Linked DNA regions of Homo sapiens: region 2 is reported to be linked to region 1. The links are microRNA targets in miRTarBase. Many come from high-throughput screens and were not tested one by one. Region 1 holds a microRNA gene; the other region holds the end of a gene's coding sequence.
The links. Region 1 holds the annotated microRNA hsa-miR-4769-3p (UCUGCCAUCCUCCCUCCCCUAC, at 1,922-1,943, shown strand). A microRNA usually pairs through its seed, bases 2 to 8, with sites in the 3' UTR of a target mRNA and lowers its output. Matches are read on the target gene's strand: a 7mer-m8 pairs with bases 2 to 8, a 7mer-A1 pairs with bases 2 to 7 and ends in A, and an 8mer does both.

Region 2: miRTarBase lists ZNF865 as a target of hsa-miR-4769-3p. Seed matches in the 3' UTR shown: 7mer-A1 at 1,060-1,066.

The regions. Positions count from the first base shown.
Region 1 is chrX:47,585,555-47,590,623 of GRCh38, forward strand. It overlaps MIR4769 (microRNA 4769), which reads left to right and starts at 1,875; the gene lies at 1,875-1,951. The region is part of intron 5 of SYN1 (synapsin I); the gene reads right to left. TIMP1 (TIMP metallopeptidase inhibitor 1) reads left to right here. Exons shown (of 6, transcript NM_003254.3): 5 at 1-113; 6 at 967-1,235. The coding sequence ends at 1,137. RefSeq lists a silencer at 1,736-2,030.
Region 2 is chr19:55,616,158-55,621,225 of GRCh38, forward strand. ZNF865 (zinc finger protein 865) reads left to right here. Exons shown (of 2, transcript NM_001195605.2): 2 at 1-1,112. The coding sequence ends at 641. It overlaps ZNF784 (zinc finger protein 784), which reads right to left. Exons shown (of 2, transcript NM_203374.2): 2 at 4,584-5,068. Among named protein-coding and RNA genes, the nearest start is that of ZNF784, 5.9 kb to the right of the region's middle.

The DNA.
Region 1 (5,069 bases):
ATGGACTCTTGCACATCACTACCTGCAGTTTTGTGGCTCCCTGGAACAGCCTGAGCTTAGCTCAGCGCCGGGGCTTCACCAAGACCTACACTGTTGGCTGTGAGGAATGCACAGTGAGTGCCTGGACCCTGACCTCCAACGGGAGATCCTTCCCGGGGCCATTCCCTAAATCGTGGGCTTGTTTCTTGCTCCCTCTGGCTATTCTGTGTCCCTGTGGCTGCTCCCCAACCCTAAGGGCTGTCCCTGATCTCTCTTGCTATTTCCCCAAGCCCGAGACTGCTCCCTTACAAATTCTGGCTGCTCCCTTTCCCTGTGTCCAATACCGTGTGATCACCTGTCCCTCCCTGGTCCCTCTAATTCTCCCTTGTGACTATTCTGTAATCCCACTCCCCGTTCCTGAGCCCCCGGGATTGTTTCTTGGTTCCCCAGAATGTTCTCCAAGAACCCAAAGTGCTGTTCCCTAATCCCACTGACCCTTCCTCAGCACATCTGCTTGTTGCTCTGCAGCTCTGACTATTCCAGACACCAGAGGGTGTTACACTGACCTCCTGGCTAGTCCAAGCCTGTTCCCTGATGGCTCCTGATGGCCTCTGAGCCCAGTGACTATCTTGAAGCCCCACTGGCTATTCCTGTGCTTAAACTCCTTAGCCGCCAACCGGGTGGGGCCCCTTACTACTGCCAGTTTTTCCCTGTCCTTTGGGACAATTCCACAGGCGACCTGCCTGACTGACCCCCAGGGCCTATTCCCCAGCCACCATTCCAGGACACTGATTTACTGGCTTACTGTTACCTTTCAGGACCCAGTGACATTTCCCTCAATGGGAGGGGCTGTCCTGGGGTATGTACTTAGGTGGGGTGAGAGCAAGTCTCCCCAGCGGCTCAGTGTTGAAAGCTGAGGAGAGGAAGTTCTGCTCCACGGGGGAGGCAGGGAGAAGCCCTCAGAGATGTTTCCCTCCTCCCTTCCAGGTGTTTCCCTGTTTATCCATCCCCTGCAAACTGCAGAGTGGCACTCATTGCTTGTGGACGGACCAGCTCCTCCAAGGCTCTGAAAAGGGCTTCCAGTCCCGTCACCTTGCCTGCCTGCCTCGGGAGCCAGGGCTGTGCACCTGGCAGTCCCTGCGGTCCCAGATAGCCTGAATCCTGCCCGGAGTGGAAGCTGAAGCCTGCACAGTGTCCACCCTGTTCCCACTCCCATCTTTCTTCCGGACAATGAAATAAAGAGTTACCACCCAGCAGACACTGTTTCTGTGTAGTGCCTGGGAACAAACCCATGTTGCTGATGACCTGGTGTGAGCACCCTGGGACCAGTGGGGATGAGGGATGCCAAATGTTGGGTTTTTATATTTTACTTAAATTCTGATGTACTGGTAGTAATTCTCAACATTGGCATTAGCACTGATGATCTGCAACAGCAGCAATGGTCACTGAACCTGCATTATCAACCGTAACCTCTGAATAATTTCTCCAGCCAATACTTTAAAACATTTTCCTATACTGATTCCTAATTGCTATTTGCCCAGGGCTTTCTAGTTATAAATTATCCCACAGCTGACAAATCACTGCCTTACTGGAAATTCCCCATTCACACATCTTGCCAGCTGACAGAGTCATTGACAAATGCCCTACCAATTGGCAAATGACTATCATTGCCTCAAGCACAGTCCTGATGTTGTCCAGTGAGGATGCCCCATCCAAACACGTGGGTGTTACTGTCCTCATCCTCAGGTTTTGTACCATGAGTCTGACTTGAGTGAAAGGGGACCCAGGGCACCCAGAGTCCCACAGTAACCCAGCTGGGGACTTGGGAAGAAGGGGTGGCCCTGGCTCCCCAGCCATGGCTGCAGGACATTCCTTGGAAGGGACTGTTTGGGGCAGAGGAGAGGTGGGATGGAGAGAAGGTATGAGCTAAAAATCCCCAAGCTCTGCCATCCTCCCTCCCCTACTTCTCCCCTCACTCCTCTGACCAACTTGGAAGGAAATACTGACAGCAATGAAATGCAGGTAGGGTTCAAAATTAAGACCAGCCAGATATGCTGGCCCATACCCTCCACACACCTCCCTCAACCCAACTGTCCCCTCACCCAAACTAGGGTCTCTAGACTCGACCCTCACCTTTATGAATCATCCTTTCTCTAGAAAAACTGAGTGAGAGAACCTCCAAATACTCCCCTCTGAGGCCTTCCTGCTTCCACAGCGGGGTCCAGTCCCTGGCTCCTGCCCCTCATACTCCAAAGGTCTTGACTCAAGTGAGGCCCTTGGGAACTAGAATTTCAGACTGGTGCAAACATTCAATGGAGCACCTGTGTCCTCCTGACCTGAACGTGCTTGAAAAGGGCCCCAATATATCTCCTTTGGTAAAGAAAAGGACCCCCAAATTCCCTCTCATCAGAGTACCCACTGCTCTTACCAGTAAGAACCCAGGTCTCCTCCAGGGCATTCTAGGTCACCAAGCACAGCCCCCTGGATCTTCTGTGGTCCTGTCCCAGAGCCTTTTACACTCCTGGGAGGTTACCCCACGGCCCAAATTATGTCCCGGATGGGAATGGGCAGATTTTGAACACACAGTACTCAGCCACTTAAGCAGGGAATGCGCATGCAGCAACAATTTCTACATCAACATCTACACCTTGGTTACGCCCTCGGAGGGTCTGAACCTTGTCCACCGAAGGGGCCAACCGCAGCCTTTGCTGATGGGCACAACTGTAAGGTAAGGGCCCGAGCCCTGGTTCATCCCTGGTGACCTTGTCAATGTTCCCTCAGCTGCCTGCAAGAGGCTGACCGCTCCTGGCAATTCGCCAAACCTTAGTGTCAGCTACCTGCACTCTTAAGCTGCTCCCTGGCCTCAGGGCCCATTTCCTAAGTCCTCAGCTCTTCCAAGCCCTAGGGGGAAGGTGAAGTAGCAGGGGAAGGATGGAACCCAGCGTGGAGGTCGTTCTCCTGCCGACCTGTCTACCCTGCAGGTCAGCCCTTCGCCAAGTGCAATGCAGAATGGACAGGGAGGACCGGAGACCAGAACAGGTCTCAGGGGACACAGAGCCCAGAACAGCAGACGAGGCTACCTCCACCAGAGACCTGGCATGAGCTCCTGGCAGGATCTGTAACCCTGGGCTCATTACATCCCCCATTGCTCTTGTAGAACATCTGTTAAAATAGGTCAAGTGAGCATCCTCCATCCCCAGCATTCGGGGTGTCTGTGGGTGAATCTCTGGGAGAGACTCTGTGACAGCTGAGAGGAAGCTTGTAGGGGTCACAGCCATGTGGTATTCAGCATGGGACCCAGCTCAGTGGGGAGCCTGGGGGGCCAGTCCTTCTCTCACCTGAGCCTCAGTCCTTCTCGCCATGTTTAAACATGGACGTCACAGTCCTGGCCCAGAATCCTTCAGAGGTCTGTGGTGGGGTTGGAGGATGTTTACGGGGTGTCTTTGCCCCTTGGATATTTTTGGGGGGGTCAAAACACAGGAAATGGGACAGTCATGGTGGCTGACGCCTGTAATACTAGCACTTTGGGAGGCCAAGGTGGGCAGATCACGAGGTCAGGAGTTCAAGACGAGCCTGGCCAACATGGTTTCCATCTCTACTAAATATACAAAATTTAGCCAGCTGTGGTGGCGCATGCCCTGTGGTCCCAGTTACTTGGGAGGCTGAGGCACAAGAATCGTTTGAACCCAGGAGGCGGAAGTTGCAGGGAGCTGAGATCATGCCACTGCACCCCAGGCTGGGGGATAGAGCAAGACTGTCTCAAAAAAAAAAAAAAAAAGGCCGGGCATGGTGGCTTACGCCTGTAATCCCAGCAATTTGGGAGGCCAAGGTGGGCAGATCACGAGGTCAGGAGATCGAGACCATCCTGGCTAACAAGGTGAAACCCTGTCTCTACTAAAAATACCAAAAAAAAAAAAAATTAGCCGAGTATGGTGGTGGGCGCCTGTAGTCCCAGCTACTCGAGAGGCAGGAGAATGGCATGAACCTGGGAGGCGGAGCTTGCAGTGAGCTGAGATCAAGCCACTGCACTCCAGCCTGGGCAACAGAGCCAGACTCCGTCTCAAAAAAAAAAAAAAAAAAAAAGCAGGAACCCTGGAGCCAGATCATCTGCATTCAAATCTTGCCCCTGCCATGTCTTAGCTCTGTGTCCTTGAATAAATCATATTGCCTCTTTGAGCCTCAGTTCCTGCATCTGTAAGACAGGGATAAAAAGAAGGCCTAACTCATAGAGACAATGTCCATATTAAATGAGGTTGTATATGTGAAGTACTTGGAACAGTGCTAGGCATATAGCACTTACAAGCATTAGTTACTAGAAGTAGTTATGATAACTATAACTTATAACTTTAGTAGTGATTATTTATAATATTGCAAACAATGTTTGATATTAGGCATGATAATATACGATATTGGAAATAATGTGTATGATTAGTACCAATAATTTAATGTCCATTTCTCCCCCACACCAGTCTCCTCACCAAAATACAAGCTCCTGACCCTGCTCTGCCTGAAGGAATGGGGTAGGTCTCCGAGACCCAAAAGCTCCTGATGTGATACTAAGATCCCAGCTCTTTACGCCATAAATGTTCCTCAGTCCCAGTGTCCCTCTCTCTTTTCCCCCTCACAGACAATCCAGTTTCCTAGTGGAGTCCTGAACCTGTGGCTCACAGAAGCACCTGAAAATAAAGAGCAATGTGGTTAGATCCTTCTACACGCCCACCCACAACAACTGTGGCGACACCATGAGGAGAGGTTCCCCTTTAGGGATTCCTAACGGCAGGCCAGCCAACCTGTCCCCACCCTGTGTGGACTCCTCACCCTCAGGTCTCCCTCTGCACCACCCTGGAACAAAAAGTCCCCATCCCTGGAGCATTCTCCCCACGAAGAACCCCCGCCTCACAATACTATGTTCCCAACTTCAGCCCGTCACAGCAAATTCTGTCCCCAGTCCGTAGTGTTCTGAGTCTTTGAGACTTGGGGATCATAGCATGTCCTAGCCAAGGGACATATGGTCATGCTACACTGGTCCTTGGGACATGGCCTCTGTCCCTCCAGGTCCTTTGAGGGATAGAAGTCTGCACTCTGCGAGA
Region 2 (5,068 bases), not on the chromosome of region 1:
GTTTCCGCTGCCCGGTGTGCGGGAAGCGCTTCTGGGAGGCGGCCCTGCTGATGCGCCACCAGCGCTGCCACACGGAACAGCGGCCGTACCGATGTGGCGTGTGCGGCCGAGGCTTCCTGCGCTCCTGGTACCTGCGGCAGCACCGCGTGGTGCACACTGGCGAGCGGGCCTTCAAGTGCGGCGTGTGCGCCAAGCGCTTCGCGCAGTCGTCCAGCCTGGCAGAGCACCGGCGGCTGCACGCTGTGGCCCGGCCCCAGCGCTGCAGCGCCTGTGGCAAGACCTTCCGCTACCGCTCCAACCTGCTGGAGCACCAGCGGCTGCACCTGGGCGAGCGCGCCTACCGCTGTGAGCACTGCGGCAAGGGCTTCTTCTACCTGAGCTCCGTGCTGCGCCACCAGCGCGCCCATGAGCCGCCGCGGCCCGAGCTCCGCTGCCCCGCCTGCCTCAAGGCCTTCAAGGATCCCGGCTACTTCCGTAAGCACCTGGCTGCCCACCAGGGCGGCCGGCCCTTCCGCTGCTCCTCCTGCGGCGAGGGCTTCGCCAACACCTACGGCCTCAAGAAACACCGCCTGGCGCACAAGGCCGAGAACCTCGGGGGGCCTGGAGCAGGGGCGGGCACCTTGGCCGGGAAGGATGCCTGACCGAGGGGTTCCCATCCCACTCCCATCAAAAGCCCCCTTCTGGACTCCCACCTCCCAGGACTGATCAGACTCTTCCCCCCTCCTCGCTGTTGCCCCATCCTTCAGAACTTCACACGGACTGGCGACCTTCAGGGCGCACGCCCGACAGGCTCAAGACTGAATCACTCCCATCCTCGACCTCTCTGCCCTCCCCTCATCCCATCAGACACTGAACCCTATCCTCCGTCCAACCCTCGTTTGTGACCCGCATCAGCCCCCGCCCCAGCAGCACTCTGCCCCCAGTAAGTTTTGGCGGAGATGGGTCTGAACCGCCCCTCCCCCTCCTTTGGAATCTGGCTGGACAGTGGAGTATGAGCAGAGTTGGGAGGGCACAAGGGAGTGCTGGGTGCTTTTTGGGGTGGGGGGGTGGGGGGCGGGGTGGCAGACGCGGCTTGTACAGAGCGGAGAATAATAAATCTTACCATGAGGGCCGCTGGAGTCCATCCTTGCATCCCACCCAGGGAGAGTGGGGATCACATGGTGGCAAAGCACAAAGTTAAAACTTGTTTCCTCTGCAGTTTTGATGCCGGGCGCCTCTGTCTCTCACTCACTCTCATTCAACAGGGACTTACTGAGGATTTGCTGTATTCCCAGCGTTAGTCTGAGCTGGGCAAATGGAGATGGACAAGACAGGTAAGTGTCTGCTCTCAGGAACTGACTTAACATGCCCCGACTCTTCCCCTTCCGGATGCTTTCAGCCTTTGTTCACTCCACCACCACTTCCGGAGACCTCCTGCCTGCCAGGCCCTGAGCTGGGCACTGGGGAAACAGATGAATTGGACGTGCCCCTTGGCCTCAAGTAACACAAAAGAGAACTCCCATCCGGCTGCCGTGGCTGCCTCACAACCATGTGCAGACTGATGGTCATGATACAGCTCCCTCTTAGCACTTGTCCTCCAGGGTAATGATTGGGAGATTCAAAAGCCCGTTCACAGCTCTCATGTTGGCTCTGGGAACAGCAAGATGTATGCCTGGCAATGTGTGTTTAGTTATCTCATTTGTTAGAAGAAGGGCCTGGGGTCCTGAAGAACAAAGGTGCTCCAGGGACATCTCAAAAATCCACAGAATTTGGACTCCAGGCCAGGCATGGTGGTTCACGCCTGTAATCCCAGCACTTTGGGAGGCCGAGGCGGGCAGATCACTTGAGGTCAGGCGTTTGAGACCAGCCTGGCCAAAGTGGTGAAACCCCATCTCTACTAAGAATACAAAACTTAGCTGGACATGGTGGTGGGCATCTGTAATCCCAGCTACTCAGGAGGCTGAGGCAGGAGAATCACTTGAACTCAGGAGGCAGAGATTGCAGTGAGCTGAGATCGCACCACTGCATCCAGCCTGGGTGACAGAGTGAGACTCCATCTCAACAAATAAATAATTTGGACTTCAGTCCCAGAGTACTTCAGTACAGAAACTTGAAGATGAGGCCAGGTGCAGTGGCTCATGCCTGTAATCCCAGTACTTTGGGAGCCCAAGGCGAGCAGATCACCTGAGGTCAGGAGTTCGAGACCAGTCTGGCCAACATGGTGAACCATCCTTTCTACTAAAAGTACAAAAATTAGCTGGGCGTGATGGCAGGTGCCTGTAATCCCAGCTACTCGGGAGGCTGAGGCAGGAGAATCACTTGAACCCAGGAGGTGGAGGTTGCAGTGAGCTGAGATTGCGCCACTGCACTCCGGCCTAGGCGACAAGAGCGAGATTCCATCTCAAAAAAAAAAAAAAAAAAAAAAAAGGAAAAAAAGAAACTTGAAGATGAAACTAGGTAAGAGCGCTGCTTGGGTGAGTCCTGTGTGACCCATGGGAGAGCAGCTACCCTGTGTGGCTCCATGTTCTAATGCTGAAGACCCAGCATGAGACAGACGTTGTGCCAGTGCCCCCAGGGTTCAGGGTTCAGCAGTAACATGGAAATGGAGCCTCACAGTGTAAGGGACTTGGAAGTATCACTAGGGCTTGAGGGAGCACAGAGGAGTCACCTGTCAGAGTGGAAGGGGGGCTAGAAAAGCTTCTTGGGGAGAAGGTGATCCCTGAACGATGACATAAACCAACTGGAGTTTTCCAGGTAAAGAAGTGGCAAAGAGGCCGGGCACGGTGGCTCATGCCTGTAATCCTAGCACTTTGGGAGGCCGAGGCAGGTGGATCACGAGGTCAGGAGCTCCAGACCATCCTGGCTAACACGGTGAAACCCTGTCTCTACTAAAAATACAAAAAATCAGCCGGGTGTGGTGGTGGGAGCAGGTGGCAGGCGCCTGTAGTCCCAGCTACACGGGAGGCTGAGGCAGGAGAATGGCATGAACCCAGAAGGCGGAGCTTGCAGTGAGCCGAGATCATGCCACTGCACTCCATCCTGGGCGACAGAGCAAGGCTCTGTCTCAAAAAAATAAATAAATAAGAAAAAAAAAAAAAAAAAGAAGTGGCAAAGATTTCCAGGCGGAGAGTTTAGTGTGTTGAACTAAACCCTGCTATTCTGGAGCATTTAAGACAGATTAGTATGGCTGGAGGTTGGGTTCCTGGGGGCTAAACCCTGAAGGGTCTTGAATTCCAAACTGTGGGGCTTGGGTGATTTTATAGGCTAGAGGCTGGAAACTGGCAGCTGCAAGGCCGAATATGACCACTAACACATTTTTGTTTAGTCTGTGCATTTTTTAAAAAGTTTGACTTGACTGCCAACATTGGGAAATCAAAAGATTTTACATAATGTGAACTAATGGAACTTCTGAAAGAAACTGGAAGATGTGGCAACCCAATCTGTGTTCCGGAGCTGAGCAGCCATTACCCTCTTCTGAAGAGGCACTCTCCAATTTGTTGAATACCAATTCTGAGACCTGGTGGCAATCGCCATTATTTCATGTTGCTGATATTTTCCCCTTGAACCTGGCCGTCTTGCTCGTGTATTTACATTTTCACCCAGCTCCTGTAGGCATTCACATTTCCAAATCGTCTCAAAGCCACAAGGAGCTGTGTCTTGGTGACAAGGATCTGCATGGATGCCATATGGAGAATGAAGAGGGCAGGTGGCCGGGTGCAGTGGCTCACGCCTGTAATCCCAACACTTTGGGAGGCCGAGGCGAGTAGATCACCTGAGGTAAGGAATTTGAGACCAGCCTGGCCAACATGATGAAACCCCATCTCTACTAAAAATACAAAAATGAACTGAGCGTGATGGCGCCCACCTGTAATCCTAGCTACTCAGGAGGCTGAGGCAGAAGTGCTTGAATCCAGGAGGCAGAGGTTGCAGTGAGCAGAGATTGTGCCATTGGACTCCAGCCTGGGCAACAAGAGCAAAACTCCATCTCAAAAAAAAAAAAAAAAAAAAAAAAAAAAAAAAAAAAAAAAAAAAATGCAGGCACTGGACTGCTGTGCAGTTGTCTGTGTGTGAGACCACTGTTGGTCTACAAGTGTAGTGATGCCGAAAACACGTTCCAGTTCCAAAGATATTAACTGGCTCAACTGAGGGAAACTGATAAGGGACTGGACATAAGAATGAGGATGAAGAAGGTTTAAACCTGCCCAGGTATCCAGCTTGGGTGGTGGTGCCAATGACATCAGAAGCATGGAGGTTTCTTTGAGGAAAATGGAATGAGTTCTGTTCACATTGTGAGTTGCCTGTGAGTTATCTCATGGGGCCCACTGGGTGAACAGAAAGGTGTGCAAATCAGAGGCTCTCACTCAACAAGCATGCAAAGCATGTTGAGTGTGCTTTTGCCAAACTTCCCTGACCCCCCTCTCCTACAGCTGAACCACATAACACGTAACCACAGTGGGGCCTACTCACCCCCCATTCTGATGATGGGGAAACAGAAGCTTGGAGGAAGAGATGATGCAACTGACTGCTGGTGGCAAAACCATGGTGAGGCCCCTCCTCCCCCAACTCCCCAAAGCGGACAATCCGAATACAAGACCGACAGAGAAGCCCTTCAGAAGGTCCTTTAATAGGAACAGAACTGAAGGTGTCACACCTCCAGCTCCCAAGTCCTCCTCTCGCCCCCACCACAGTGACTCTTTCACTCCACACCCAGGCCAGCCCACCATGCTGCCATCAGCCAGCCCGCCCTTGGGATTGGCGGGGACTAGGCAGTAAGCTGTTTGCTTCGAACTGGGAGTGGAGGAAATTAGAGAAACCTGAGGCTACCTTGAGGCTTGTGGGGGACCCTGGGCTCTGAGTCTAAAGCTTTAGGAGGGGGATGCTAGGTAGCTGCTTGCTTTATGTGTTCTCAGTTGCCTCCGAAGAAGAGTGGATGGGTTAAGGACGGACCACAATGGGGGTGGGGGTTGCCGCTGTTGGAGTCAAGATCCTATGGTCAGGCTTACATCCTTGAGGCTCAAGTGCTCTCAGCGGTGACTTGGGGACCCTCTGGCTTTGAGGTGATGGGATCCCAGAGTCTCTTCACAGATAA